5 separate regions of the Homo sapiens genome follow, and regions 1, 3, 4 and 5 are each linked to region 2. The links come from fine-mapping of genetic effects on plasma protein levels. Region 2 holds a variant in brackets. A gene starts in each other region. All regions are shown on their forward strands.

Region 1 (6,142 bases), not on the chromosome of region 2:
CCTCATAAAGTTGTTATGAGAATCAAATACATGTCAAATCCGTGGTACAGGGGTTGACAACAGTAATCCAAGTTTGCTCTAATTTGAATAAACGCAGTTCTTCTTACTATACTGTAAAGACTATATCTGACCAGGTGCAGTGGCTCACGACCTGTAATCCCAGCACTTTGGAAGTCTGAGGCAGGTGGATCACTTGAGCCCAGGAGTTCGAGACCAGCCTGGGCAACATGGCGAAACCCAGTCTCCACTAAAAACACAAAAATTAGCCGGGCGTGGTGGCACACACCTGTAGTCCCAGCTACTCAGGAGGCTGACGCACGAGTATCATTTGAACCCAGAAGGCGGAGGTTGCAGTGTGCTGAGATCACACCACTGCACTCCATCCAGCCTGGGTGATGGAGTGAGACTCTGTCTCAAAAAAAAAAAAACAAAAAAAATACTATATCTGGCTACAGTAGTATTCCCAATGCCTGCCACATAGTTGGTGATCAGTAAGTATTTATTTTAAAAATGATCTGGGATTTCAACCCACATCTGCATAACTCAAAACATTTATGCCAGTGATTCTCAATGTATGATCCAGGGCTGTCTGCCTGAATGGGCCTGACCCCAAGAATCAGAGCCCCTGGCTGGCCAGAACTCTGGATTTATCCTCTCCAGTTCAGCAATAGGCTCACAGTGTAACCTGGGCCAGTTCTCCCTCTCTAGGTCTCAGTTTCCCCATCTGTAAAAGTAAGGGCTCTCTGGGGTGAGGAGCTGTTTATCCACATGACCAGCCCTGCTCCATGGGGGCTCCTGGTATCTCAAGACACGCAACCTTCAAGCCACAAAGGATCGTCACTGACGTTACTACTTTTATTTTGTAAGCCCGCATGTCTCAGGGCTCATGTGTGTGTGTCTGTGCGTGTGCGTACACAGGCACACATTCAGATCTGCAGGTGATGTGGCTTGGGGAGAGGCTGCCATAAATATTAAACTCCCAACTCCAAAGTACCCTGCAGAGATTCAGAACTGCAGGAATTCATAACATCATTCTCTTTCAAGAGTCAGTGTTCTCAGGAGTGTGGGCACCGTCATAGAAAACTATCGAAAAGGAGAGTGAAGCATTAGAGAACTGCTGAGCTTGGAGGGAACTCGGAGCTCATTTAGTCCCTTGTTCCCGAAGCTCCAAGCACAATCCGTGGTCAGCAGCATCACCCTCACCAGGGAGCTTGTTAAAATGCAGAGGCTCAGCCCCAAGAGGAACATGATGGATCAAGATTTGCATCTAAACAAGATCCCTGGGGGACTTGACTGCACGTCTTTGTTTCTGAAAAGCTGTCCTAGTCCCCAGCCCTCATCTGCATTTGGGGGAAACATGAGGAACAGAGAGGGGTGGAGTTTGTTCCAGGTCCCCCAGCCCATTAGGAGCAGGGCCTTGACAAAAAACCTGTAAGACTTTGGAAAAGGATTCAAAGCTCTCTGCGAGAGGCAGGCGTTTGCACAAAAGATGAATAAGTGCAGAAGAAATGCTCAGTGTTGCTAATTGTGTCCAACAGGGTTCAGGCAAGAAAAGAGAATCCAACTGCATTGGTTCTTGGGATTTGAATAAAGTGGCTATTTCTAGAGTTGGGGGACAAGCTTGAGGAAACCAACCAGGGACTGTTTTTCCTAAGGCTCAAGCAGCAAAGAAAAGCATCTGGGTATCCCAGCCCAAGGAGATAATAGGAGCCAAGGACAAGGCCTTATCAGGAGGGACACAGCCAACTGCCACACTTGTGATCTAGAGAAGACAGCAGGGAAAAGTGCCCTGACATCTGACCTCCTGCCATGCCACCCTCTGGCTGAACCCAAGTAGAGATGAGGAAACTGAGTCACAAAGTGCCCAAAGTCACCCCGTGGGGGAGTCAGGATTCAAATCCAGGCCATCTGGCCCCAGAGTCCATAAAGATAAACATAAGGTTTGTTTATTCCTTTGGCAATTATCTACTATTTGCTGCTCAGTATTCTAGACACTATGGATTCCAAATTCTGGGTTTTTCAAAATCTTTTCAGTAACACTTTTGTAGTGAGAATATTATCGGTGGCGAGTCCGCAACACTCCCAGCCCTTGTCTTCTCAGAGGAAAGAATTCAATTGAGAGACGCAGGCAAGTTTTAAAGCAGAGGCAAAGGTTTATTGAAAGAAGCAAAGTACAACTGAGAGATCAAGTGCCCCGCTCAACCTTTGGCTCGGGGCTTTTATACACTGGCTTGGTTCTGGGGTTTCTTCTCCTCCTTGATTCCTCCCTTCGGTGGGCTGCTGCGCCCTCCCTGCATGCGCAATGGCCTGCCAGCACTTGGGAGGGGCCGCATGCGCAGTGTGTTTACTAAGGTTGTGCGCATGCTCACTTGGGGTGATTTTCCCTTACTGGTCCGTCGCCGCAAGAAAAAGGTCATATACAAGTCAGACTCCAACATTTGCCCTTCTGCTCGACCTTACCAGGGAATTGTGGTTTGCTGGCTCCAGATGATGTCAACTATCTGTTAGGGAACTCCTCTCCCTCTTGGCGCCATTCGTGGCCACTTATCATGTCAGAGGGACAGTTTTATGATCGCCTGTCCATCATTTGATGCACTGCCATTTCTGGGGGCCCTCTCCTGCACAAGAACACAATAAACAGCCTTGTTAAAAGAGTCCCTATTTCACTGCAATAAGACTGAGTGGTGGCCAGAGTGGTAGCAGCTGTTGCTTTTGTGGAATTGGATGGACAGCCTGGTAGGAGAAAGGCCCAGGGGTTCTGACCAGCAGTGGGGTCGTGCTGCTCCCTGAGGCCTCTGCTGGGTCCTGGGCCATCAGCAGGGACCTTAGCCAGCAGTGGGCACCTGCAGGGGTGGAGGCCAGGCCTGGGCCATGTGGCAGCTCTAAGGTCCAAAGATTGCTGCTGTGGGAAATTCCCACCCCTGCAAATGACTCCCAGCCAGGGACATCCTTAAACTGCTGCCAGAGGAAGAGTGACATCTATGTCCCCATAAGATCCTTATGCTCCAGAATGTCCTCCCCCACTCTCCTCCCCTCCTGGGCAGGCTGAGGTCCAGGAAGCAAAGGCCCCTAGGCACACTGGGGATGCACCTGTGAGCCCTTTCCTGCTCCAAAGCCTCCCAAAGGCTGGCTCCTTACCCTGAGGCCTCTGCTCAGCTTGTTGCCTCCCAAGAGAACCCTGCCCTGACCAGAGTTTTGGAATGGCATCCTGCAGACCTGGACTTAAATTCCTGCTGGGTGACTGCAGCCTACATCACTTCACCCTGCCAAACCTCAGTTTCTTCATCTCAAGACAAGACTAAAATATCCACCTGGGGTTGCTGATGCAAGGATGAGAGGAGACGTGCAGCTTAACCAGCACAGCGCCTGCACATAGTAGGTGCTCAATAAATATCAGTTTCTTTCCAATTTCTGCTGGGTGCTGCAAGGATCTCAGGAAATGGAAGACTCAGCCGTGCCTGCAAGGAGCCATCAGACTGGTGGTGTGGGGACTGAGGGGAGGGACGGATGAGGATCCCAACAAACCTCAGCCCCAGTGACAGGAGCAACACGGTACAGAGGAGCAGAGAGGCCTGGACTGTGGGGTTCCCTGTGCTTAACGTGGGACATTCTGATCTTAACCTCAGTGCCTGCCAGTGCTGTTTGTGACCTATTGGGAGTCACCCTGTTAATCCCACCACATTCAGTTGGTTGAGGCCATCATGAAAACCTGCCCAATTTCAAGGGAAGGGGGCAGAAACATTACCTTTTGATGGAAGGAATATCAAAGAATTCGTGGGCATATTTTTAAAGGACCACAATTATCAAAAAGCAGAGTGGTTAATGCTGTGGTGGGGAAAGCGCAAAGGGTTCTGGGACCTCAGAGGGGACCCTTTCTAGAATCCAGAGAAGCATGGGAGTGGTCAGGGAAGGCTTCCTGGGGGTGAGGGCAAAGCAGAACTCACAAATGTAAGCAGGGCTGGGGCAAAACTCTAAAAATTAAACACAGTCTGTACTATAAATTTTGTTTTCCAGAATGAAATTTTACTATCTTTACTTACTGCGAATATATGCCCGGGACCATACCCCCAAGAAAATAAAAATTTTAGAGGCTGGGCATGGTGGCCCAAGTCTATAATCCCAGTATTTTGGAAGGCCAAGCGGGAGGCTTACTTGAGCTCAGGAGTTCGACACCAGCCTGGGCAACATAGCAAGACCTCGTCCCTACTAAAATACAAAAAATTAGCTGGACATGGTGGCTCACACCTGTAGTCCCAGCTACTTAGGGGGCTGTGGTGGGAGGATCACTTGAGCCCAGGAAGTTGAGGTTGCAGCGAGCGATGTTCATGCCACTGGACTCCTGCTTGAGCAACAGAGTAGACTTTGTCTCAAAAAATGAAAAAAGAAAAAAAAATTGTACGTATCAACAAGCAAAAACTTTTTTAACACTTATAATTCTACCCCCACAACCAGAGACAATGCCTCATGACTCCTTGCTAAATATTTTCCAGATTGTTGAACATAGAAGCCTATTTTGAACCCCCCAAAATAGAACCTTACTCTATGGTGCCATCGGAAACGGATGCCTCATGACATCCCTTTCCTTGCCAAGAAATACCTTTATTTCTGCAGCCTCACTTTAAGGGGCATGTCATAATTCATTTAACCAATGCCCTTCTGGTGGATACATGAGGTTGGGTCTCACTTCTCCTGTCCTGTTTCCCACAGCATAGCAGTGGTATCTTGGAGCAGTGATTTACTGGCACACTGACTCAATTATGTATTTAAGGGCAAGTCCCTGAAATTGAATTCCTGGGTCACAGGGCATGCAACTGTTTAAACATTTGCCAATTGCCTTCCAGAAAATTTCACCACCAGCAAGGTTTGAGAAACACTGTTTTCCCATTGGGGGAAACATTTATTTTTTAAATAAACGAGCCAATATATTTTAAAAAAGAGAGTTTGGTTGGTGCCAGATGTAGCTTCACTCTCAACCCTGCCCTCTGCTGGGGGTGAGATCTCAAGGGAGCTATGTGGCTTTTTTGAACCTCAGTTTCCTCATCTGCTAAACCAGGCCTTCCTAGCCGAGCTCTTAAGAGACTGGCTGAGATGAGGCAAGATGAACAGTGATGAATATGGGGTCTTTCTGTGGGGAGGGTGGACAGGGATGATCATAGGAGTCAGGCTTCCTCATCCACTGATCTGGGCAGTGAAAACTGGCTTCTAAGTATGACCTTATGACTTCAGTGATGTCGCAAGCAGGTTCCAGTCCCTGTGCCTCCCCTTCCCGCTCCCAGGAACCCATCCAGCCTCAGGAACTGCCCCCAGCCATCGAGCCTTGGCTACTTAAGGGACCTGGGCCCAATCCACAGCTGGGACAGTCCTGGCCCACTGCACTGGGAATCTAGGATGGGGGCCTTGGCCAGAGCCCTGCCGTCCATACTGCTGGCATTGCTGCTTACGTCCACCCCAGAGGCTCTGGGTGCCAACCCCGGCTTGGTCGCCAGGATCACCGACAAGGGACTGCAGTATGGTAAGAAGCCACATCTGCTGGCTGGACTTGGCAAACCCACGCTCCAGGCTGCTCTGGGTACAGTGGGGACAGGGAGTGGGGACACAGACCGGACCCTCTCCCTGGGGCAGTGCCACCTTCTGGGTCAGGTGGCTCTGGCTCCTATTCTGGCCTTACTGCCCACCAGCTGAGTGCCCTGGGCATGTTATTTGTGGTAGTGAGGTCCTCCACCAGCCAACAGAACACAGCTTTGCGTGCAAGTAGTTGATTTGGGAAATGATTCCAGGAAACACTGTAGGGAATCGGTACTGAGATGAGGAAGGGAGGGCAGCCAGGAGAGAGTGTGCAATTAAACCAGCCACCACCTCTGATGATGGGAACCACTCAGCTGGGAAAATTCTGCGTAAAGTTTGGAAACACATGCCTCTGAACTGGAAGTCAGAATTGTGGTCACCTCTAGAGGCAGGCAGAGACCCTGAAGGGCATGAGGGAGGTCTGCCGGGGTGCTGGAAGTTGCCATATCTTGATCCAGGTGGTGATCACATTCCTGTATAAACATTAAAAATTATTTAGCAATACCTTTAAAATTTGTGCCCGTTAGGTACTTTATGTATATTATTCCTCAATTTTAAAGAATGGGCAGGCCAGGCA
Region 2 (6,372 bases):
CAGTCAAACATGCTGTAATTTCTCTCACTTTAAATAAAACTCTTTCTTGAACATGCAAATCCCTTCCAGCACCAATGCCTTTTCTCTGTGCCCCTTTACAGAAAAGAATCATTGAAATAGCTGTCTGTATTGTTTTCCTATCTTCTGTTCCCATGCTCTTTTGATCTCACTTCCAGGATTCCGCACTGCAATCCATCAACATTGCTCTTGTTAAGGTTACTGATGACCTTTCTATTATTGCTCAATCCATTCATCCATTTTCAGCGGATCAGTTAATCCATTTTCATCACCTCACTTGCTCTATCACTAGCATTTGACATAACGAAACACTGACTCTTTACTTTTGTTTCCAGGACAGGGAGGTTCAACTATTATTCCTTTCATACTCATTACATTTTGGAAAACTATATGCCCTCTCACACATTCATTTTGCTGTCATTTAATTGGTCATAGTATTTTATTTTTTTTTTTTTGAGACGGAGTCTTGCTCTGTTGCCAGGCTGGAGTGCAGTGGTGTGATCTCGGCTCACTGCAATCTCTGACTCCCTGGTTCAAGTGATTCTCTTGCCTTGGCCTCCTGAGTAGCTGGGATTACAAGCATGTGCCACCATGCCCAGCTAATTTTTGTATTTTTAGTAGAGACGGGGTTTCACCATGTTGGCCAGAATGGTCTCGATGTCCTGACCTCATGATCCTCCCACCTTGGCCTCCCAAAGTGCTGGGATTACCAGCATGAGCCACTGTGCCCGACGGGTTATAGTATTTTTTAAAACACTTCTAAATTTGAAATTATTTCGCACTCAAAGAAGAGTGGCCAAGATAGTACTGAGAATACTGATGAACATTTTCCCCAGCTTCCCCTCACGTGAACATATTATATAACCATCGTCCATTTGTCAAAACTAAAAAATTCACATTGGTACAAAACTGCACTTTATTCTGATTTCACCAGTTTTTTTCACTGATGTCCTTTTTTCTGTCCCAGGATTTAATCTAGGACCTACAATTTTGCATTTAGTCATCATGCCTCCTTAGTCTCTTCCAATGTGTGACAGTTTCTCAGTCTCCTTGTTTTTCATGACTTTGACACTTTTGAAGAATGCTACTCAGGTATTTTATAAGATACCCCTCAATTTGGGTTAATCCAAAATTTTCTTATGATTGGGCTGGTGTTATGGAGTTTGGGGAAAAGTTCTACCATAGAGGAAAATAGTGTTTCTGATTCCAGCATACACAATGTGTGTAAAGAGTGTATACAATGTTAGCATGACTTATTACTGGTGATATTAACCCTGGTCACTTGGTTAAGGCGTTTCTGCCAGATTTCTCCACTATAAAGGCAGCACTTTCTCCTGTTCACACTCTATTCATTAGGAGCAAGTTATTAAATCCTACCCTCACCCAGGAAGAAGGAATTAGACTTCCTCTCTTGAAGGGAGGAGTCTCAAGGAATTTAATCCACTGTAGTTAATTCAGACTATGGGGAGTTTCTTGGATGTTATACAAATATACTGTTTCTTCTTAAGTCTTTGGCCACTAATTTCAGCATTCATCAGTAGATCACACCTGCAATAATCATTATTCTGCTGCCTTCACGACCTTTCATACATTTTTAAGTTGACATCGAAAATTTTCTTCTTAAGTTTAAATCTTTGTATATTCGTATACTACCTGAATTTCAGCACTGTGTGTGTGTGTGTGTGTGTGTTTGTGCGTGTGTGTTTCCCTCAGAATCTTAGAGTTGCATATTTATACATATCTAATGTATGGAAAAATATCTGCCATATAATCTAACTGGCAAAACCAGTCTTCACAGTAAAAATCAACCATGCAGGGAAGCATATTTTTTCTGTCAGAAAAAAAAACTGGCTTCATTTTAATTAAGATAAACATTTTAATACACATCTCTGTCACAAACTTCTCACCTCCAAATTCTAATGCATGGAAAGACAGACAGATGTATAGCCATAGCACAAAACCTTCTCATGAATTCGTTCCCTGGATATACTAAGGTGCTGTCTTTTTCCCTTTTACTCTTTTTTTTTTTTTTTTTTTGGCATTCATCACAATGCCTTTAATTTTACTTATTTTTTTTAAATTATCTTTTGAAGTTTTTGTGAGTACATAGTAGGTATATATATTTATGGGGTATATAGTTTGTCTCTGTGTCCCCACCCAAATCTCATCTTGTATCTCCCATAACTCCTACGTGTTGTGAGAGGGATCCGATGGGAGATGATTGAATCACGGGGGCGGGGCTTTCCTGTGCTGGTCTCATGATGGTGAATGGGTCTCACGAGATCTGATGGTTTTAAAAACGGGAGTTTCTCTGCACAAGCTCTCTTTGCCAGCTGCCATCCACATAAGATGTGACTTGCTCCTCCTTGGCTTCCTCCATGATTGTGAGGCCTCCCCATGTGGAACTGTAAGTCCAATAAACCTGTTTCTTTTGTAAATTGCCCAGTCTCGGGTATGTCTTTATCAGCAGCATAAAAACGAACTAATACAGGGTACATGAGATATTTTGATACAGGCATGCAATGTGAAATAAGCACATCATGGAGAATGGGGTATCTATCCCCTCATGCATTTATCCTTTGTGTTACAAACAATCCAGTTACATTCTTTATTTTAAAATATGCAATTCAGTTATCATTGACTATAGTCGCCCTATTATGCTATCAAAGAGTAGGATTTATTCTTTTGTTTTATTATTTTTGTACCCATTAACTATCCCCATCTCCCCCTATATCCCTCCACTACTCTTCCCAGGCTGGTAACAACCTTTTTTTTTTTTGGACGAAGTCTCGCTTTGCTGCCAGGCTAGAGTGCAGAGGCGCAATCTTGGCTAACTGCAATCTCCGCCTCCCGGGTTCACGCCATTCTCCTGCCTCAGCCTCCTGAGTAGCTGGGACTACAGGCGCCTGCCACCACGCCCGGCTAATTTTCTGTATTTTTTAGTA[G/A]AGACGGGGTTTCACCGTGTTAGCCAGGATGGTCTCGATCTCCTGATCTCGTGATCCGCCCGCCTCGGCCTCCCAAAGTGCCGGGATTACAGGCGTGAGCCACTGGGCCCGGCCAATTTTTGTATTTTTAGTAGAGACGGGGTTTTACCATATTGGCCAGGATGGTCTCGAGTTCTTGACCTCGTGATCTGCCCGCCTCGGCCTCCCAACGTCCTGGGATTACAGGCCTGAGCAACCCCGCTCAGCCTGTAACCACCTTTCTACCCTCTATGTCCATGAGTTCAATTGTTTTTATTTTTAGATCCCACAAGTAAGTGAGAACATGCAATGTTTATGTTTTTGTGCCTGGCTCATTTCACTTAACATAATGATCTCCAGTTCCATCTATGTTGTTACATATGACTGGATCTCATTCTTTCTTTCTTTCTTTTTTTTTTTAATGGCGGAATAGAACTCCATTGTGTATATGTACCACATTTTCTTTATCCATTCCTCTGTTCACAGACATTTAAGTTGCTTCCAAATCTTAGCTATTGTAAACAGTGCTGCAACAAATAAGGTGTGCAGATGTCTCTTCAATATACTGATTTCCTTTGTTTTCGGTATATACCCAGCAGTAGGATTGCTGGGTTATATGGTAGCTCAATTCTTAGTTTTTTGAGGAACCTCAAAACTGTTCTCCATAGTTGTACTAATTTACATTTCTACCAAAAATGTACAAAGCTTGTCTTTTGGATATAAGTCATTTTAACTGGAATGAGATGATAGCTCATCGTAGCTCTGGTTTGCATTTCTCTGATGATCAGTGATGTTGAGCATCTTTTCATATGCCTGTTTGCCATTTGTATGTCTTCTTTCAAGAAATGTCTATCCAAATCTTTTGCCCATTTTTTGGATGGGATTATTAGATTTTTTCCTATAGAGTTGTTTGAGCTCCTTATATATTCTGGCTATTAATATCTTGTCGGAGGGGTAGTTTGCAAATATTTTCTCCCATTCTGTGGGCTCTCTTTCACTTTGTTGATTGTTTGCTTTGCTGTGCAGAAGCTTTTTAACTTGATATGATCCCATTTGTCCATGTTTGCTTTGGTTGCCTGTGCTTGTGGGGTGTTGCCAAGAAATCTTTGCCCAGCCAATGTCCTAGAGAATTTCCCCAAGATTTTCTTGTAGTAGTTTTATAGTTTGCGGTTCTAGACTTAAGTCTTTAATCCATTTTGATTTGATTTTTGTATATGGTGAGAGATGGGGGTCTGGTCTCATTGCTTTGCATACAGATATCCAGTTTTCCCAGTACCATTTATTGAAGAGACAGTCTTTTCCCCAGTGTACATTCTTGGCAACTTCGTGGGAAATGAGTTCACTGTAGGTGTGTGGATTTGTTTCTGGGTTCTCTATTCAGTTCCATTGTTACGTGTCTGTTTTTATGCCAGTCCCCTGCTGGTTTGGTTATTATAGCTCTGTAGTATAATTTGAAGTCAGGTAATGAGATTCCTCCAGTTTTGTTCTTTTTACTTAGGGATAGCTTTGGGTATTTCCTTTTACCCTTTCTTACAAAGTGTTTGTTTTTAGAAAACACACACTCAGGAATGATCAAAAGCGCTTGCTTTTTTTTTTTTTTTTAATTATTTTTCGGAGTAATGTTCCACAGTAAGATTCAGAATCAGTACCAGGAATGCCTTTCTTTTGTAAACCAGAAAAAATGCAAAAACGGAAGTGGAAAAGAAGAACTGGAAGTCCACAAATGCCTTCTCAAGCATCTTTTTAAGGAAAGTGGTCAAAAGGAGTTTGTGTATCTGGAAGTTGAGTTCTTTAAAGCTTCTTATGCTCACATATACTCTGGAAAATCTTGTGACCCCAGGGTATGTATGGCAATGCACTATATCAATAACGTGCTCTAAATTATTGGAGATCTAAACAATCCTCTTATTTGAGCAAAAATAGATGTATTTGCTTGTCTCCCAAGATATTTGACAAAAGTCATCAAGCATTCTATTATCAAAAATTATTTTAATTGATGTATCACCTGGCTATTCACCTAGTTTCTGTTATAATTTGGCTGGAAGAGAACGTGGAGAGAGGTGTGATAAGATCCTTATGGCAAGGTAATTGAAAAGTAAAGAGCACTGAAAGTCTTTGCAGATAACAGCATTCTTGGGGAGGAGCATTCCTGTACCGTTGAGATTTTGGTTGGTTCTTTTCAAATCCTCAGTTCTGCAAAAAAACATAAAAGTTACTTCTATGTGAGCCCCCAAAGGATATCACCAAGATATCTTTCCATTTAAAAAAAGTAAGATACAAATTTAATTTTAAATTTTCTTTTACCAAAAGACTATGTGATCCAACGTTCTGCAGTATTGGGTTATCATTATAATTATTATTCACAATTTCTCAAAAACATGCATATCATATAAATGTTAATATGTAAATATTAAACATTAAAATTAAATTTTATTGGAAATGTGTATCTTAATGAGGTGAATTGAAGTTTATTTTTCTTTTAGTTCACTTATTTATGAATGAATATTGCTAATTGCTGGAATAAGATAACTCTTAGAACAATATCTGTTCCTTTTTTTCATTTATATATACCTAAATATCGAGAAAACTAACTTACACAAATAAGTAAATAGGAATAGAATGTTATTGTACTGTTACTAAATTATTTATGTTTCTCCCAAGATATTTGGCAAAAGTCACAAAGCATTCTATTACTAAAAATTCTTTTAACTGATGCATCAGCTGGCAATTCAACTAGTTTATCTTATAATTTGGCTGAAAGAGAAAATTAGAAACCATTTGACTCGATGGTTTTCTAATTGTTAGCATCATTCACCTTCTCAACAGGGACACTGTCATTTTAGTAATCTCACTGTGTGTCATTCCAGATGTTTTTATACCCAGAGCCATGCTAATGGTAAGATTCATAAGGGGGTGAGGAGTGACTGCAGTTTATTAGGTGGGAGAAGAGTTGTTACAAAAGAAGCATTGGGAAGCAAGAATCTGCACGTTCATCATTGAAACATCCTCAAATCTAGTGATTTTAGCAAAGCATGCATAGGAAATTGAGGGCTTAGGAGTCTGTTTCCTTATGATTGTTTACCTCTTGGATACGTTTGATATAGCCTGCTCTAATAACTGCCTGTTGAGGGTGCCTGACTCTCCCAGTTTTCCTCCTTCCCTCCCTGATCATCCCTTTTAAATTTCTTTTGCAGGCTTTTCCTCACCCCTGAATGCTCCAACCAGTCCTCAGAAAGCTACATTCTTTCTCCTGGGGATCTCATCCATTTCCATGGCTTAACTACCACCAATAGGTTGAACTACCACCAATAGGTTGACAGCACCCAGAGATTTTTTTTTTCTATAGTGGGATCTTTTGGTGAGCACTCAATTCATATAACAAACTCTCTCC
Region 3 (6,035 bases), not on the chromosome of region 2:
CCCCCTGACATCCCAGCCATGGTCATCAGAAGGTCATATCCCAGATCTATGGCCCCATCTCGGCCTCGTTCCCTGGCCTTGCCCAGGCAGTTTTGAGTAGCATAATACAAAGCTGTGCCCAGGTTGTAGAAGGTTCCCACTCCTGGCAGCAGCTGGACTACATTGTGCACAGCTTGCTCCTTCTCATTCTCACAGTCCTCTGTCGGGAGGGAGCGCCCGACCCTTCCTGTGCTTTGCTGCTCCCTGGCTAACAGCTGCAGAGCAGAGGCCAGGGCTTCCACTGACACGTTCCTCTCTGTGCTTCTGCCTTTCTGGAGCCCTCGAAGATGCTGGATGAGGACCTGTGTAGCATTCACACCACCCTGGCGGTAGAGCTGTAGCTGTAGAGCCCAAACATCAGCCTGACAACCAGCTTCCTCCAGGGCATTCCTTAGAGCCAGGCTTACCAAGAACTTGGGTAGAGGGGCCATGTGGCTGAAACCAGGCAGTGACTTTGGGTGCAGAAATTGGCAGGACAAGGGGTCTGAGGAGGGTGTCTGGGATTCCAAGGACAAGGGAAAGTGCATCAAGACATTTGTCTGCTTTCCATATGAAGTGGCATCCACAGGGTGCAGCAGGAGGTAGCAAAGTAGCAGCTCAACTGGTATCATGATGAGTCTGAGGCCACGCATGTCTGGAGCAGAGTACCCTAGAAAGGGGAGAAATCCGAAACATACAAACCATTTCCCTAAGGGCGATGGTGAGCCCAAGACTCAGTTAGGGGGACACCTCATACATCACCTGCTTCCAAGCTTTTGTACTTTCTTTTTAGAGACAGGGTCTTGCTCTGTTGCCCAGACTAGAGTGCAGTGATGGGATCACAAATCACTGCTGCCTTGAATTCCTGGGCTCGAGGGATCCTCCTGCCTCAGCCTCCCAAGCAGCTGGGACTACAGGTGCGTGACACCATGCCCAGCTAATTTTTAAATTTTTTGTAGAGACGTGGTTTTGCCATCTGGCCCAGCCTAGTTCTGAACTTTGGGCTCAAGTGATCCTTCCACCTCCGCCTCCCAAAGTGATAGGCTTCCAGATGTGAGCCACCGCGCCTGGCCCCAAGCTTCTGTTCTTTTTAGGTAAAGGCCTAGGAAATAGGAAATGCACCCCAGTTGCTCCCACTTGGTCTCCCCCATTTACAGGTCACCAGGGACTTCTGTTTTATTTCCACCCATATATAGGGACCCCAAATTACCACACAGTCCAGTCATTGAGAAGTGAGACTGCCTTGGTAGGTTTGATCGCTTCCTGATCCTGTTCTGCCTAGTTCTGTGTCCCATGAGGAAAGGAGATATTTGCTTTCCCCTATGATCAGTGAAGGATGTAATCTCTGCAAATATTTGCCCATTTATACTGGCTGCTCAAACCTTGTGCCCCTTGTCACACACTCAACCTCTATGCCTACAGTCCTGTTCTTTGGCATTTCCTGTATGTCCCTGCCACATTCCCACTCTAAGCTCATGATAGGAGCCAGGGAAATTCAGAATTAGGAAAGATGAGATGTTTGTGATACTCTCATTTCTCTTCATTTTAAAAATTAAATTAGCGGCTGAGCATGGTGGCTCACGCCTGTAATCCCAGCACTTTGGGAGGCCAAGGCGGGCGGATCACAAGGTCAGGAGTTCGAGACCAGCCTGGCCAATATGGTGAAACCCTGTCTCTACTAAAAAAAAAAAAATATATATATATATATATATATATATACACCCAGGCGTGGTGGTGGGCGTCTGTAGTCCCAGCTACTCAGGAGGCTGAGGCAGGAGAATTGCTTGAACCCGGGAGGTGGAGGTTGCAGTAAGCCAAGATCGCACTACTGCACTCCAGCCTGGGTGACAGAGTGAGACTCCGTCTTAAAAAAAAAAAAGGAGGGGAGCTGACACCTACTAAGTGGAGAGGGGCAAGGCTAACACTGGTCACATATGTGTTTAAGGGAAGAGGTGAAATAAAGAGCATTCATCTGTCCTAAGTGGTCTCCAACATTTCTAACTACTTACTGTGTGCCATCCTTGAATACAGTCCTGGGAAAGGAGACTCATTACTTATGTGATATTGAATAGCTGAAATGAGCCGGGATCAATTCCTGGATCATTTTCCTCACAAAGCACTTCAGAATAGCTGTGGAACATTTGATAGATTATATTGTCACTGTCCATGGACAATTTAAATGATCTTGAGAGCTTCTTCAACTTTTTGCCTAATTCTTCAATATGCTCCCAAGACTCATACCTGCAGTTCTTGGTGATGTGGACACCCAAAACTTTGAACTGTGACACCAAGCATCATGGGAGATGGTTTCTCAGCAAACTCAATCACCATCTGAGCTACCTGGTAGGCCAGCTACCCCAGTGGGTATATTTGCCACCATCCATACATTTCCCAGGATGGGCAGCTGGGTGCTGGGTTTATTCACACTTCCCTAAGGGACTACTAGATTCGTCACAATGATGTTGGTATTGCCTTCCTCCCCATTGAACTTTTTGACTCTCACGGATGAGGGTTTCAGTGGTATCCTTTCCTCGCATCTGAAACTGCAGAACATGGGCCTCAGTTGGGCAGCCCACCTCCTCCAAGGGCACCCTCAGAGCTAAGTTGGACAGGTACTCAGGCAGAGGGGCTAGGGAGGGGGCTGTGTGTAAGAGATCTTGGCAGATCCTGGGATCTGGGAGAGGAATCTGGCTCTCCATGTTCTCCAAATAATGGAGAGCATGTTTGATGGATGCCCAGTCTCTGTTAAAGATGGCTGGAGGGTCAGAGTCTCATTCTGAGCATTTCTTGGAAAGGCAGACACCAGGGACAGCAGGACACAGCAAAGCAGCAGCACAGCTTGGACCATGGGGGGACAGCAGAGCAGCCCTGCTGGAAGGAAGCAGTGCTCAGGTTGGGAAGTGGAGAAAGGCTCAGGACAAAGAGACACCAAGACTGGCCAGAGCTAGAAAGTGTCTTAGCTCTTGGAAACTTCGGTTGCCCTGAGCACACCTCATCTTCACTCTTAAAGGATGTGGGTGATCCTCCTATTTTGAGGAGAAACAAGTCAGAGGAAAAAAACAGTCCAAACATCTCATTTGCTTTGGTATCTTCATGACCTGAATTACTATTATTGTTGTTGTTGCTGTTTTTAATCTGCCCTTTCCCAGAATCACAAGGAAACCAGAAAGTTGATGGCTTCCAAAACAGTGAAGGACAAAACATTTGCAAATATTTATGCATCTCTTCCCAGCCCAGACTTTGTCCTTCTCACCTTTGACCCATACTGACAAACTGACCTTTCCCCTTTTAGGCCCTGCAGTCCTGTCCCATATCTTTTTTTTTTTTTCTTTTTCTTTTTCTTTTCCTTTTTTTTTCTGGAGACACAGTCTCACTCTGTTGCCCAGGGTAGAGTGCAGTGGCACGATCACAGCTCACTGCAACCTCCACATCCCGGGTTCAAGCGATTCTTGTGTCTCAGTCTCCCTAGTAGTTGGGATTACAGGCACGCACCACCATGCCTGGCAAATTTTTGTTTTGTTTTGTTTTCTGGAGACAGTCTCACTCTGTTGCTCAGGCTGGAATGCAATGGCGTGATCTTGGCTCACTGCAACCTCCACTTCCCAGGTTCAAGAGATTCTCTTGCCTCAGCCTCCCGAGTAGCTGGGACTACAGGTGTGCGCCACCACGCCTAGCTAATGTTTTTGTATTTTTAGTAGAGATGGAGTTTCACCATGTCAGTCAGGCTGGTCTCAAACTCCTGACCTCGAATGATCTGCCTGCCTCGGCCTCCCAAAGTGTTGGGATTACAGGCGTGAGCCACGGCACCCAGTGACATATCTTTTCTATCCTAAGGTTTTACCCTAAACCTATATTTGAGCTGAGGAAAAGGTCCTCCGTATCTTCTTGAGGGGAGAAAGGGTAAGGCAGAATAGCTGGTGATCTCTGGGACCCCTAAACCATTTTTCTTTTCTTTTTTTTTCTGAGACGGAGTTTCGCTCTTGTTGACCAGGCTGGAGTGCAATGGCGCGATCTCAGCTCACTGCAACCTCCGCCTCCCAGGTTCAAGTGATTCTCCTGCCTCAGCCTCCCAAGTAGCTGGGATTACAGGCGTGTGCCACCATTCCCGGCTAATTTTGTATTTTTGGTAGAGACGGGGTTTCTTCATGTTGGCCAGGCTGATCTTGAACCCCTGACCTAAGGTGATCTGCCCACCTTGGCCTCCCAAAGTGCTGGGATTACAGGCTTGAGCCAGCCACAGCGCCTGGTCACCATTTTTCTTATTAAAAGAATATATTGGTTGGGAAGCCAAGGCAGGCAGATGGCTTGAGCCCAGAAGTTTGAGACCAGCCTAGGCAACATGGCGAAAGCCCCGTCTCTACAAAAATTATAAAAATTAGCCAGGAGTGGTGGCATGCACCTGTAGTCCCAGCTACTGGGGAGGCTGAGGTGGGAGGATCACCTGAACCTGGGGAGGTCAAGGCTGCAGTGAGCCATGATTACACCACTGCACCATCCAGACTGGGTGACAGAGCGAGACTTTGTCTGAAAAAGAGAATATACTGGATGGGAGTCCAGGGAAACTGGACAGATTGACAAATAAGACAAAATCAGAGCAACTTTTTTTTTCTTTTTTAGAGTCCAGTCCAGGTATTGCTCTATCTCCCTGGCTGGAGTACAGTGGCCTGATCATGGCTCACCACAGCGTTTAACTCCTGGGTTCAAAAGATCCTCCTGCCTCAGCTTCTCAAGTAGCTGTGACTACTGGTGTGCACCACCATGCCTAGCTAAAATTTTTTTTTTTTTTTTTTGTAGAGATGAGGTTTCACTATGTTTCCCAGACTGGTCTTGAACTCTTGGTCTCAAGCAGTCCTCCCACCTCAGCCTCCCAAAGTGCTGTGATTAGAGGCATGAACCACTGCACCTGGTTTATTTTTCACTTTTCTAATTCCAATGCAAAACACAAATAAAACATGTCCATCAGCTGAGCAGTAACTTTCCAAATCTAACCAAAACTCCAGGAATTAGGCTTTATCTTGGGTTTAGGGGTAACATTAGTCCAAAAATTAGGGAAATAAGACATCTGATGCCTCCTAAAAATGGTACCAGTTCCTACATATCATTATGGCCTAAAGTTTCCTCTGATGTCACTCACCTCAGGCACATGGCCAAAGGGACTAGGCCAATGGCAGGGTCCAGGGTCCCTCCCTCTATTTTTTTCGGTTCTTTCAGTTCCCAGGAGTGGCCCCTGACAACTAAGAGCAAAGACAGAAGCAGAGGAGTAAGTCTCCAGGGACACAGTGCCAACTTAGAAACAGCAAGAACTAAGTGGAAAGGAGTCCAACACTGTCTGAAATTACTAGACCCCAAACCCCTGGGGAATCCCTAAGACAATATATATACATATACCTACATGGATAAAATATACGTACACACACATACACGTATACCAGGCTGGAGTGCAGTTGGTACAATCACAGCTCACTGCAGCCTTGAACTCCCAAGCTCCAGCAATCCTCCCACCTCGGACTCCTATATATCTGGGACTTCAGGCACGTACCACCACACCTGGCTAATTTTTAAAATTTTCTTGTAGAGAAGGGAACTCACTATGTTGGCCAGGCTGGTCTCGAGCTCCTGGGCTCAAGGGATCCTCCTGTCTAGGCCTCCCAGAGTGCTGAGCCACTGCACCCAGCCTCCTAGGACTCTATAGTTTCTGTGTAGCAACACTAGAAGGAGTGAAAGATTTAATCCTTGTCTCCTAAGATCTATCACAAAGCAGAAATATCCATTCTTACCAGTTTTTCCTCATTGTACTGGAAGTTCTAACCAGTGTAATGTGGAAAGAATAAAAAATAAATGGCATAAAACTAGAAAGGAAGATGTAGAACGATATTTATTTAAATACAACATAGCTCTGGCTGGCTCAGTCGGTAGAACATGAGACTCTTAAAAACAACATGGGGGCTGGGCGCAGTGACTCACGCGTGTAATCCTAGCATTTTGGGAGGCTGAGACGGGCAGATCACGAGGTCAGG
Region 4 (6,372 bases), not on the chromosome of region 2:
GACTGGCTTACAAATTTTCGTCCAAAAATGACGAGCACAGCAAAGTCCAGGGCCACAGTCAAAAGTTCTCAGACAACTTTCTCCCTCTTGTCCTGTAACAAGGTTAATGTGGGCTTTAGTGATAAATAAGGAAAGTGGCCTGCTGGGGGTTTGCTACTGGGATAAGGGAATGGGACCTATGACTGACAGCCACAAAGTAAAAACAGACACAGCACGCAGGTCTCACAGAGCTAGGTGTTACGCTAAAAGCAGTAATGCCATGGCGACTCCACCCCTACCCATCAGAATTGATCGTTGTTACTGGCTGCAGACTACCTTAGGCTACTCTCTACGTGACCCCCACAGCTTCTTACAGAAAGAGATAACAAACAGCACATGCTTCCTAAGTGTTTCTGGGATGGAGAAGAATAAAATCAGTCTCACCCTATCCTTAAGAGGCTGGGAGGAGAAAATGCATTTCTGAAATAAAATATGCTGCGAATGCTGTTCTTACCCTTCCTGCCTTGTGATTTCTTAATACTTGGCTTCCTTTTGGGTTGGTTTTCCTGGACTGGGTGCCCAGTTGTTCCTTCTGCATGTGTGCCATCTTGCTCATCAAGCTGCCTTTCTAATATTGGGGTTGCATCTTCCATCGTAGTACAAACATCTGAGGGACAACCAGGTGTAACTAGAATTATTAACTTCAAGGGGGAGAACCACAGACACACTAATTATCCTACTGTTGCATAGTTTGGCAGCACCTCTGCCTTCAGTTTATATATAACTTTCTAGATTTCTGGAACATGTGCTAAATATTTACATGCTCGCATGTGGCAGAGAAAGTAGCTAAGTGGAAATTGCATTCCATTAAAGGTAGTTAATGGTATCCAAGTGGAAATGGAAGTATTTGAATGATTACAACTTGAGTCTTTCCTTTAAAATCATTATCTCCAAGTCATTGGCAAGAGCTGTTGCCAGGAAATAAATTATTTTGTTTCATTAAGAAAAGGCAAGCCGGGTCCGGTGGCTTACGCTTGTAATCCCAGCACTTTGGGAGGCCGAGGTAGGTGGATCACCTGAGGTCAGAAGTTCGAGACTAGCCTGACCAACATGGTGAAACCCTATCTCTACTAAAAATAACAAAAATTAGCCGGGCATGGTGGTACATGCCTGTAGTCCTAGTTACTCCAGAGGCTGAGGCAGGAGAACCACCTGAACCCGGAGGCCGAGGCTGCAGTGAGCTGTGGACAACAAGGGCGAAACTCCGCCTCAGAAAAAAAAAAAAAAGGAAAAGAAAAGGCAGCTGCATACATTTACTTCAAGCATGAATCTAGGAAGCACCATTAGAGAGTGCCTACCCTGGAATATTCTAGTCTATGGGGCTTAGACACTACCTTCGGTTTAAAAACCACTGTTGGCGTTATGTCGCTCACCGTTCACACAGAGTGTCCCAGGGCAGCACATGGCATCTCGCTGGCACCTCCTCCGCAACCCACGACATGTAGCACAGAACGGCTTCTCATCGCGGGGCTGGAGGCAGAACTTTCTGGTATTGCAGTCCGTGTCAGACAGGCACTGTGAGCCCTGTGGAGGGAATCTGTTATCACAAGGCTAGGAAACCCCCAACACGATGGAAGATGACTTATTATTGAAGGCAGGAGGCGGAGGGAGCCAAAGGACAGTGGCGCTGTGACAAACCCTGGGCAGCATCTTACTCTCCAGTGGAAATGGTTTTCTCCCACAAAGGGAAGCTCATGTCACCCGGGGAGACCTAGGCGCTGCAAAGGCTATTTGAGTTTGAAAAATTGACTTAACTCAGAATTTAGTTTTCCTGTGCTCTTTGTGAAAATGGGAAAAAATGTTTTCCTATGTGTGTCTTAACAGGTGAGTATGAGATTTTCAATATATCTTAACTCTAGAAGCTGGCTACAGTTTCATTAAACATACTATTGATGTTTGTGGCATTCCTATTTGATTTTTTACTCTAGTGAATCACATTTAGCTTAGAGACCCTTCCCTAAGTGAACTGTCCTTTGATTTTCAATGATGCCTCATTGACATAGAGAAAGAGATACCGAAGATCAATTGTTCTCATACACAGTTGATGCTTCTACATAGACATACAACGTAGGTGTAGCATATATGATATATGTAATAATCTATACGATATATAATAACATATACACATACATAAAGCGATTCCTAAAACAACTCTCTCTGTGAAGTTAGATGGTGACAAGGCAATGCATCATGGCCCTCTGTTTAAATTCTCATTCCCATGTTTGCTTGCTGGCTGTGTGAGCTTGGGTAAGCTCTTCAACATCTCTGAGTCTTATTTCCTCATCTGGAATTAGGGAATGTTTCACCTATCTCAAATTGTGAGGAAGAGTACATGACGTATTACATGTAAAAGAGCTGGCACATAGTAGAGCTTCCAAAGTGTTCGTTTATTTCGTGATTTATAGACAAACGTATGGCCGAATGATGTGAAAAGCCACTGTGTTTATTTCATACATTCACACTAAGGCCACTGATCCTACCAGGATGCCCTCCCAAATCCGAAACCAATTCAATTTACCTGCTAGGTAAGACATTTCATACATGAATCAGAATGACTTACTAAAGCCTAAACAAAACACCCCAGCTGTCAGCAGTCCCGTACCTCGCCCCCCTCCCTAGCAGCCTTACCTTCCGGGCCCCATGCAGGTCAGCAGAGCTCCTGATGTTGTTGAAGTCCAGGACCAGAGCTCCCAGGGGAGAGCAGAGCCAGCTCAGCCCCAGCAGGACGGCCGCCACCATCCTTCAATCCCGGGGCTCCTGGAGGGTCCCAGCACTGTGCGTCACCAAAGCGAGGCTGCTCTCCACCCAGAGCAGAGCTTCCACTAAGCTGGCAGCTCAGCACGTCGTCTGTTTGTCACTGCTTTTTCTGAAAGAAGTAAACCTTAGTCTGAGTAAGGTGCGTGAAATCGGCTGAGCAAAGTCTGACCAGCAGGTTCCTCCTGAAACTATTTATAACCAGATGTGCCTCCTCCCCGCTCCGTTCCTTCCTCCTGCCCCACACAGGCTTCAACAAATCCCTTCAAATCTGTTTGATCAATAGTTCAAAACAAGGACTCAATAGAAGGAGAGAAGAGGCAGGGCCATGCGGCTTCTCCTCCAGGGGTTCAATCCCTCTTAATTATTGCATATCAAAGTTAGTTCAAAGGGCCACGGCAGAGCAGGATGTCTGTATCAAAGGCAAACTCTGATAATCACCTGCATTTCCTACCTTCAGTAATCCTTTGGGGGTAGGGAGGGAGTCTGCCCTAAGATCTGTTTTCACAGCTAATTGTGCTCAAAGAAAGGATGAATCATACTGGCCAATATGCTATAGAGGATGCCAAAAACTAATGAGGTACAAAATACACTGAGAAGCTGTAAACTGGGCTTCAGATAGTGAGGACAGATAGAAAAAGAGAAAACGCCCCCTGATTAGCTCTGGCATCCAGATGTCAAAATCCCAACCGCTTAAAAGTTGTGAACGTAACAGCACCTGTTCTGACTAAATGCCATTTGGGAAATTACTTTCCTTTAAATGAAAATTGAACTGTTTGAAGTTAGGGTTATTAGGAAAATAATGTAATTTATGAAAATCCCATTTTTCAATGGTGGGAACAATGATAGCGCATTTTACACAATTCAGTACGAAGCTTTGGGTCCATTTTATCAGCAACATATTTAATTTGTGTTGCATTATGTAAAACTCACTTAAGCAGAACAAGGATCCAAGTCTCTGGCTGATTTCAGATGAAATTTCATGTATTTCCAATTTTCCTAATACGAATTTTTTAAAACTTCTGCTTCATCCCTTTCCTGTCTGATTTTTTTCCATTTGGACTATTAGTCAGGTAATTTAGACATGTGCTTATCACTGTCTTAAATACTTTAAGGGTAGAACAATCTAGATCTGGATCAAAAAATCATTTTTTCTCTTCATTGTTTCATTGCTCTTAGCATAGAGTCATCTAAAATGCATTTTTTCTATGCCATAAATGATAATCTTATTATTTACTACATTTTCCTGCAGAACAACCTAACATCAATTCATTGACATGAATCTCAGCATTCTGTGCATGGGAACATTCTCAATTTTGAGTAATGCAGTGCCATTCCGAGGGTGATGCAGGTGATTCGAGCCTTCCTACTACTTGGCCCTTGTCCTTGGGTTGGTATTGCTTGTCTACCTCTCGTATGGAAGTTACTTGTTTTAATCCCTTAAACTGACATCAAACAACACCCTTTGATAGCATGATAACCCTGGTGACTAGGGGTGTTACAGAATTTATTTTCAAGTTGTACAATTATGACCAAGGATAAAGGAAAGAGCCCCCAGGGTTCTGTCTCTGCCGGGTTTCTCTGCTTCCTGCTGCCTCACTGTAAGGGAATTTCAGGTTACCAAAGGCCCCTGGCAATATACACAGGCGAAAGAACTGACGGGAACTCCTGTAACACGGCACAAACAGCCACTGAGCACTTAGAGCACTTGGCATGGAACAGAGCCTCGGATTACATGTTAGGAATAAAATTTGAAACTCCAATGGCCGGGCACAGTGGCTCACACCTGTAATCCCAGCACTTTGGGAGGCCAAGGTGGGAAGATCTCCTGAGCTCAGGAGTTCAAGACGAGCCTGGGCAACATATTGAGATCCTGTCTCCACAAAAAAAAAAAAAAAAAAAAAAGTAGGCCGCGTGCGGTGGCTGACGCCTGTAATCTCACCACTTTGGGAGGCTGAGGTGGATGGATCACCTGAGGTCAGGAGTTCGAGACCAGCCTGGCCAATATGGTGAAACCCTGTCTCTACTAAAAATATAAAAACTAGTCGGGCGTGGTGGTGGTCACCTGTAATCCCAGCTACTCGGGAGGCTGAGGCAGGAGAATTGTTTGAACCTAGGAGACCGAGGTTGCAGTGAGCCAACACGGTGCCACTGCACTCCAGCCTCGGCAACAGAGTGAGACTCCATCTCAAAAAAAAAAAAAATTAGCCAGTCATAGTGGTGTTCACCTGTAGTTTCAGCAACTCAGGAAGCTGAGGTGGGAGAATCATTTAAGCCCAGGAGATTAAGCCTATATATATATATATATATATATATATAGAGAGAGAGAGAGAGAGAGAGAGAGAGAGAGAGAGAGAGAGAGAGAGAAAGATTCAGACAGAAAACTTGTATGTATGGATGACAGAGCCTGGGTGACACAGAGAGAGAGAGAGATCCAGATAGAAGACATGTACATATGGATGATTTCAATGTATTATGACAAGCACTAAAATAAAGGTATAAATATAAGGGTGGAGGACTTATGAAGATATAAATACAGACGAAGGCATGATTTAGACTTTCTAGAGAAATAAAGGAATGTGTTTACAGATGAGGTAATATTTGAGCTGAATTTTGTTGGTTGCATAGGGGCTTCCTAAGTTGGGAAGTCGGAGATATCCTCACCTGGGCTCAGAGGGTGAGGTGTGTGCAAGAGGGAGGAGGTGCACTCAGGTGCTAGTGAGAGATTGTGTGGCTGCGGCAGATGATGGAAGGATGAGATGAAGCAAGATGCAGACCCTGATATGCCATGCTAAGAAAATCAGATTCTATTCTCTGCACAATGTAAAGTCATTGGAGATATATCAGACTGAGAATGCCATGATCCGCTGGGTGCAGTGGCTCATGCTTGTACCCAGCACTTCGTGAGGAGGATAAAGCAAGAGGACCACTTGAGGCCAGGGAGCAGCCTGAACAACATAGCAAGACCCTGTCTCCACAAAAAATAAAAAACCTGGGCATGCCAGCACTTGCCTGTAGTCTCTGTTACTTGGGAAGGTGAGATGGGAGGATCACTTGAAGCCAGGAGTTCAAGAGCAGCCTGGGCAACATAACAAGAACCCATCTCTACGAAAAATACAAAAATTACCCTGGTGTGGTGGCACGTGTCTGCAGTCCTAGCTATTCAGGAGGCTGAGGCAAGAGGATTGCTTGAGCCTAGGAGGTCAAGGCTGCATGATCCTATCCCTGCACTCAAGCCTGGGTGACAGAGCGAGACCCTGTCCTCCCACCAACAAGAAGGAAGGGAGGGAGGGAGGGAAAGAGAGAAAGAGAGACAGAGAAAGAAAGAAAGGAAGGAAGGAAAAAAGAAAGAAAAGAAAGAAGGGAAAGAAGAAGAGAGAGAGGAAGGAAGGAAGGGAGGGAAGGAGAGAGGGAGGGAGGGGGAGAGAGAGAGAGAAAGGAAGGAAGAAAAGAAAAGAAAAAAGAGAGGAAGGAAGGGTGAAAGGAAGGAAGGAAGAAAAAATGAAAGGAAGACAAACGAAAGGAAGGAAGGAGAGAGAAGGGAAGGAGAAAGAAAAAGAGAAAGAAAGAAAGAGGAAA
Region 5 (6,317 bases), not on the chromosome of region 2:
GTCCACCAGGTGTGTGCAGGTGAGGGAAACAGGGGAAAAGGCCCTTTCTGGAGACAGTAGGGGTGCTGGCTGGGAGGCCTGGGATGGGGAGTGGGGAGGCAAGGGGGCCTGTGGGTCGAGGTTGGAGCTTGCTGTAGAAGAGGGAGAATTCCAGAGGCTGAGAGTGCAGGTGGAGAGGAGGAGGAAGGGAGGAGGGCGGGCAGGGGGTGGCTGGGTGGGGCTCTGTCTATAAAGAGTGAAGCTCAGCGTGTTGGTCCTGCAGATGGGACAGCTTGGCCTACAGCCCGGCGGGCATCAGCTCCCTTGACCCAGTGGATATCGGTGAGTCTTTTCCTTGAACATGACTGAGATGAACAGCTTTTCCCTCCAGCACAACTTGTTCCTACTTTATACAACCTCCTTCCCTTGCCATATGCCTGGGGCTTAAGAGGGGGGATGTTCCCAGTACCCACTCCCCTCCTCTTCCTCAGTCCTTACCACTTCCCTCCACGACCCCAGGTGGCCCCGTTATTCGTCCAGGTGCCCAGGGAGGAGGACCCGCCTGCAGCATGAACCTGTGGCTCCTGGCCTGCCTGGTGGCCGGCTTCCTGGGAGCCTGGGCCCCCGCTGTCCACACCCAAGGTACTGTGTTCGGCAATGCCTACCACCAAGTGCCCCTCTCCCCATGCCCCCACCCCACCCCTTTTGTCTCTTATCTCCTCCGGAAGTCTCCCCAATCCCATCTCCACTGAATTCTCCCGCTCCTGACATGCAGGAACTCCTGGTGTTTGGTTAGCTCTTGGGATGGGGTCGGGGAGATGGAGAGTCCCCAGTTCCTTCTTCGAGAGCCCCATGGAGTCTTTTGCAAGACTCCTAAAGATGTGAGGGAGCAGAGGGTGGCTTCCAGCTGTGGGCAAAGCCAGTTACTGCCAGGGATGTATTGTAGAATCCTAATCCTGCCGAGCCAGGGGTGGGGTTGGAGATCAGGGCCCTGGAGACTGACAAGAGTGGATTCCCATCCTGGTCCCTCCATGCAGTCCAGCTGAGAGTTAGTTGCTCCTAAACCATTTTTTTTTTTTTTTTTTTGAGACAGAGTCTCACTCTGTCACCCTGGCTGGAGTGCAGTGGCGCGATCTTGGCTCACTGCAACCTCCGCCTCCTGGGCTCAAGCGATCCTTCTGCCTCAGCCTCCCAAGTAGCTGGGACTACAGGCGTGTGTACCATGCCCGGCTAATTTTTGTATTTTTTAGTAGAGATGGGGTTTCACTATGTTGGCCAGAGTAGTCTCGATCTCCTGATCTCAGGCGATCCGCCTGCCTCAGCCTCCCAAAGTGCTAGGATTACAGGTTTGAGCCACTGTGCCCGGCTTCCTAAACCTTTAGGAGCCTCCGTTTCCTCAGCTGCAAAGTGGGAATCTAAAATTCCCACTGCATGGCTCTGACTTGAGGGTCCAGTGAGCTCATGCCTGCAAAAGACTAGGCCTCATGTCTGGCGGCGGCAATAGTAACTGTTCCTGTTATTAATAGGGAACTCTTTCCTTCTTCCCCACTCCCTACCGCAGAGCAAGCACTTGAGGATTTCAGTCGCCAAAGGACAATTCCTGGGCCTGGGGTGTCCCCACGGGAGCCCTGACACTGGGTCCTACATCCTCTGAGTTTCAGCAGCTGGCCAAAGCAGGGTCCCTGGCTGGGCGGCAGACCCAGGGTCCCACCCTCCTTCCCTGTCTGCCCCCACCTGACCCACCTGCCCCTCGGCTGGGTCTGATGGGTCCAAGTCCTTGGCCTTTGCCTGGGAAGGGGGTTGGGCTGTGGTCTGATTGTTTTGCTATCAGAGCCAGGCCCAGCCCAGCCCTTCGATCCTGGCCTCCAGCCTTGGGAACTACCTGCCTGGCACTGCAGTCCGAGGTTCCAACAGAATGCGCTGCCCCTTGCCCTCAGAGGCCGCGGTTGGGAGACACCTGGAGGGCTCGAGTCCTCCCTTTCCCTGCTCCTGCTGGGCTGGGCTCTGCAGGGACTCAGACTCGGCCTCTGGAGGTTAGTTCTGGCAGAGGTGAGATTGCAGAGAACTCCAAAGGCCATTTAGGCAGAGAATTGCACCCCAGCTTCCTCCACTATCTCATCAGCTCATCCTCGGCTCATTCATTCCACCTGCTCATCCCCCCAGAACTTTCTGGCATCACCTCCTCCTCCTCTGGGCACCCCCCACAGTGCCTGTGCTTCCCCCTTTCTGCAGAGATCAGTTTCCCGGGAGCTCCCTGAAGACAACACTAGGTCTAATTCATCTGTGTGTTTCATCTCTGCTTGTCTAGACATTGACATTTACTGAGAGCTCTTTACTTTGTATTAAAACAATTTTTTGTTTGTTTGGTTGGTGTTTTGTTTTGTTTCATTGAGACAGAGTTTTGCTATTGTCGCCCAGGCTGGAGTGCAATGGCGTGATCTCGGCTCACTGCAACCTCCACCTCCTGGGTTCAAGTGATTCTCCTGCCTCAGCCTCCAGAGTAGCTGGGATTAAAAGCGCCCACTATCAGCCAGGCACAGTGGCTCACGCCTGTAATCCCAGCACTTTGAGAGGCCAAGGCGGGTGGATCACAAGGTCAAGAGATCAAGACCATCCTGGCCAACATGGTGAAACCCCGTCTCTACTAAAAATACAAAAATTAGCTGGTCGTGGTGGCGGGCGCCTGTAATCCCAGCTACTCGGGAGGCTGAGGCAGGAGAATCGCTTGAACCCGGGAGGCAGAGGTTGCAGTGAGCTGAAATTGAGCCACTGCACTCCAGCCTGGGTGACAGAGTGAGACTCTGGAAAAAAAAAAAAAAAAGGCGCCCACCACCATGCCTGGCTAATTTTTGTTTTTTGTTTTGTTTTGTTTTGAGACGGTGTCTCACTCTGTCGCCCAGGCTGGAGTGCAGTGGCGCGATCTCGGCTCACTGCAAGCTCTGCCTCCCGGGTTCACGCCATTCTCCTGCCTCAGCCTCCCGAGTAGCTGGGACTCCAGGCGCCCACCACCACACCCGGCTAATTTTTATATTTTTAGTAGAGACGGGGTTTCACCGTGTTAGCCAGGATGGTCTCAATCTCCTGACCTCGTGATCCGCCCACCTTGGCCTCCCAAAGTGCTGGGATTAAAGGCATGAGCCACCGCGCCCGGCCTAATTTTTATATTTTTTAGTAGAGACGGGGTTTCACCATATTGGCCAGGCTAGTCTCAAACTCCTGACCTCAGGTGATCCACCCACCTCAGCCTCCCAAAGTGCTGGGTTTACAGGCATGAGCCACTGTGCTGAGCTGCCAATCAGCTCATTTTTAGGAGGGAAGAACTTGGCTGGGGAGGGGTGGTGTTGGCCCCTCCTCACAGTGCACCTGCACTCCGAGTCACCCTTTTCCCCAGAGCAGGAGTAGAGGTGGCCTTGGTCCGTTCATTTGCTGGTTCCACACCCTTCCCAGCCGGGACCCAAGGGTCCTCTCCAACCTCTGGCTGTCCCAATATCCAGGGATAAGGGGTGAGCCAGGAGGCTTTTTCTTTCCTAAGGCTGTTCCTCAGCCTCTGCCGGGCCTGGAAGGGTTGTGGTATGAGCAGACAGGTATGCAGACAGGTGCCCTTGCCTGTGGCTGGCCCTGCCAAGTTAACATGCAAGGGTGCGAGTATCTGGGCGGCTGTGTGGTTGCAGGTGTCTTTGAGGACTGCTGCCTGGCCTACCACTACCCCATTGGGTGGGCTGTGCTCCGGCGCGCCTGGACTTACCGGATCCAGGAGGTGAGCGGGAGCTGCAATCTGCCTGCTGCGATGTGAGTGGGGCCGTGGGGGCTGGGGGGGTGGGGTGCACACACAGCCTTGCTGCCAGCCTACACCCTAACCTGGGCACCCCCCTCTGCTCACCACAGATTCTACCTCCCCAAGAGACACAGGAAGGTGTGTGGGAACCCCAAAAGCAGGGAGGTGCAGAGAGCCATGAAGCTCCTGGATGCTCGAAATAAGGTTTTTGCAAAGCTCCACCACAACACGCAGACCTTCCAAGGTGGGCAAGACCTCTGCTGGGCATCTAGGGGGCCTGCCCTCCCTGCCTGCAAGCCCATGTGTGGTTCAGACCCCGAGGGAGGGAATTGGAGACCAGAATACTGACACCTGCCTGAACCCCAAACAAAGCCAGTTGCTGGTGAGTGGGGCACCAAGTGAATGACCAACTGATTGAGTCATTGTCCAGTTTTTGTTTCTGGAGATGGGGTCTTGCTCTGTTGCCCAGGCTGGAGTGCAGTAGCATGATCATAGCTCACTGCGGCCTCAAACTTGTGGGTTCAAGCAATCCTCCCACTTCAGATTCCCCAAGTAGCTGGGATTACAAGTGTGTGCCACCAGTCCAGCTCTTTTATTATTATTTTGAGACAGAGTCTTACTGTGTCACCCACGCTGGAGTGCAATGGCGCCATCACAGCTCACTGAAGCCTTGACCTCCCAGGCTCAAGCAATCCTCCTACCTCAGCCTCCTGAGTAGCTGGGACTACAGGCATGCTCCACTAATCCAGCTCATTGTTATTTTATTTTTTATTTTTATTTTTTGAGATGGAGTCTTGCTGTGTCATCCAGGCTGGAGTGCAGTGGCACGATCTCGGCTCACTGCAACCTCTGCCTCCTGAATTCAAGCGATTCTCCCGCCTCAGCCCCCTAAGTAGCAGGAGCACAGGCCCACGCCACCACGCCTGGCTAATTTTTGTATTTTTAGTAGAGACGGGGTTTCACCATGTTGGCCAGGCTGGTCTCGAACTCCTGACCTCAGATGATCTGCCCGCCTTGGCCTCCCAAAGCACTGGGATTATAGGCATGAACCACCATGCCTGGCTCCAGCTCATTATTATTATTATTATTTTGAGACAGGGTTTTACTCTTGTCACCCAGGCTGGAGTGCAGTGGCACAATCACATCTCACTGCAGCCTTGTGTTCCTGGGCTCAAGCAATCCTCCCACGTCAGCCTCCCAAGTAGCTGGGATTACAGGCACACACCACCATGCCTGGGTAATTTTTTATTTTCATTTTGCAGAGACAGGTTGTGCCATGTTGCCCAGGCTGGACTTGAACCCCTGGACTCAAGCAATCCACCTGCCTTGGCCTCCCAAAGTGCTGGGACTACAGGCATGAGCCACTGCACCCAGCCAGTCCAGCTCTTTTAATCAGGACACTTTCCACTGGTACAGATGGAAAGCTCAAGCACATGGGAGACTCATTGGCTTAAATAACCAGTCAACAGCTTCAGGCTCAGCTGGATCCAGGAGCTCAAAGGATGATGGCAGAGCTCTTGCTTATTTCTCTCTCCATTTCTCCAGCAGGCCCTCATGCTGTAAAGAAGTTGAGTTCTGGAAACTCCAAGTTATCATCGTCCAAGTTTAGCAATCCCATCAGCAGCAGTAAGAGGAATGTCTCCCTCCTGATATCAGCTAATTCAGGTAAGGACTCTTGGTCATGTGACTGTCTCCCATCCATCACCTTTGCTGAGGGTTGAGGGCTCGTGATTGGCTCACACTGGGACAGGAGATTCACCTCCAGGACCCAGGAGAGGTGGTTGTGCGGTCAGTGCCGCAGATTCACAGGGGAGGGTCCTCGGTGGCTGTCCACTGCTGTGACTCAGCGCAAAGACACCACAGCAAGTGAGAAAGTAAAGCCCCAGGGGAGTGGCCCAAGAGCTCCAGGGCCCCCCAAAGCCAGCAATTCTCCAGCAGGGACCGGGTGGTTGTCCTGTAATTCTACTGAATTCTGACATTGTGTGTGTGTGTCTCTCTCTATATATACATATAAAATATATATAAGTAAATATATAATATATAAACATATATAATATATAAGTAAATATATAATATATAAATATATATAATATATATAAGTAAATATATAATATATAAATATATATAATATATAAGTAAATATATAATATATAAATATATATAATATATAAGTAAATATATAATATATAAATATATATAATATATATAAGTAAATATATAATATATAAATATATAATATATATAAGTAAATATATTATATATAATATATAAATAATATATAATATATAAATACATATAATATATAAAAATAATATATAATATATAAATATATAATATATAAATAATATATAATATAAAGTATATATAATGTATAAATAATATATAATATATAAATATATATATTTATTATTATTTTTTTTTGAGATGGAGTCTCACTCTGTTGCCCAGGCTGGAGTGCAGTGGCGCGATCTTGGCTCACTGCAAGCTCCACCTTCCGGGTTCACGCCATTCTCCTGCCTCAGCCTCCCGAGTAGCTGGGACTACAGGCGCCCGCCACCACGCT

Alleles and levels. Alleles are on the strand shown, and positions count from the first base shown. The strength of an association depends on the size of the effect and on how common the allele is.
With allele A in place of G in region 2, the plasma level of the protein whose gene starts at base 5,354 in region 1 is higher (weak association).
For the plasma level of the protein whose gene starts at base 1,356 in region 3, allele A in region 2 goes with a higher level than allele G (weak association).
For the plasma level of the protein whose gene starts at base 2,962 in region 4, G is the low allele of the variant in region 2 and A is the other (weak association).
As copies of G replace A in region 2, the plasma level of the protein whose gene starts at base 259 in region 5 goes up (weak association).

What was found. A credible set is the group of variants that fine-mapping cannot tell apart. PIP is the chance, under the fine-mapping model, that this variant and not a neighbour inherited with it causes the effect. Protein levels are from antibody-based Olink assays in UK Biobank. Linkage for the fine-mapping came from a reference panel and not from the study's own genotypes, which makes the PIPs less certain.
Region 1: LBP starts here. The variant in region 2 is the best candidate, but not a certain one, in a credible set for the plasma level of the LBP protein (UK Biobank, PIP 0.63).
Region 3: APOF starts here. The variant in region 2 is the best candidate, but not a certain one, in a credible set for the plasma level of the APOF protein (UK Biobank, PIP 0.83).
Region 4: DKK4 starts here. The variant in region 2 is the best candidate, but not a certain one, in a credible set for the plasma level of the DKK4 protein (UK Biobank, PIP 0.55).
Region 5: CCL25 starts here. The variant in region 2 is the best candidate, but not a certain one, in a credible set for the plasma level of the CCL25 protein (UK Biobank, PIP 0.85).

Annotation. Positions count from the first base shown.
Region 1 is chr20:38,341,129-38,347,270 of GRCh38, forward strand. LBP (lipopolysaccharide binding protein) reads left to right here and starts at 5,354. Exons shown (of 15, transcript NM_004139.5): 1 at 5,354-5,512. The coding sequence starts at 5,389. RefSeq lists enhancers at 1,073-1,849, 2,630-3,407.
Region 2 is chr17:68,824,701-68,831,072 of GRCh38, forward strand. The region is part of intron 1 of LOC105371874 (a long non-coding RNA gene); the gene reads left to right. Among named protein-coding and RNA genes, the nearest start is that of ABCA8, 130 kb to the right of the region's middle. The variant G/A (reference allele first, on the strand shown) is at 2,964.
Region 3 is chr12:56,361,502-56,367,536 of GRCh38, forward strand. It overlaps APOF (apolipoprotein F), which reads right to left and starts at 1,356. Exons shown (of 2, transcript NM_001638.4): 1 at 1,229-1,356; 2 at 1-688. The coding sequence starts at 1,244.
Region 4 is chr8:42,374,268-42,380,639 of GRCh38, forward strand. DKK4 (dickkopf Wnt signaling pathway inhibitor 4) reads right to left here and starts at 2,962. Exons shown (of 4, transcript NM_014420.3): 1 at 2,668-2,962; 2 at 1,413-1,563; 3 at 494-646; 4 at 1-92. The coding sequence starts at 2,778.
Region 5 is chr19:8,052,502-8,058,818 of GRCh38, forward strand. CCL25 (C-C motif chemokine ligand 25) reads left to right here and starts at 259. Exons shown (of 6, transcript NM_005624.4): 1 at 259-321; 2 at 499-621; 3 at 3,651-3,768; 4 at 3,865-3,998; 5 at 5,300-5,419. The coding sequence starts at 549.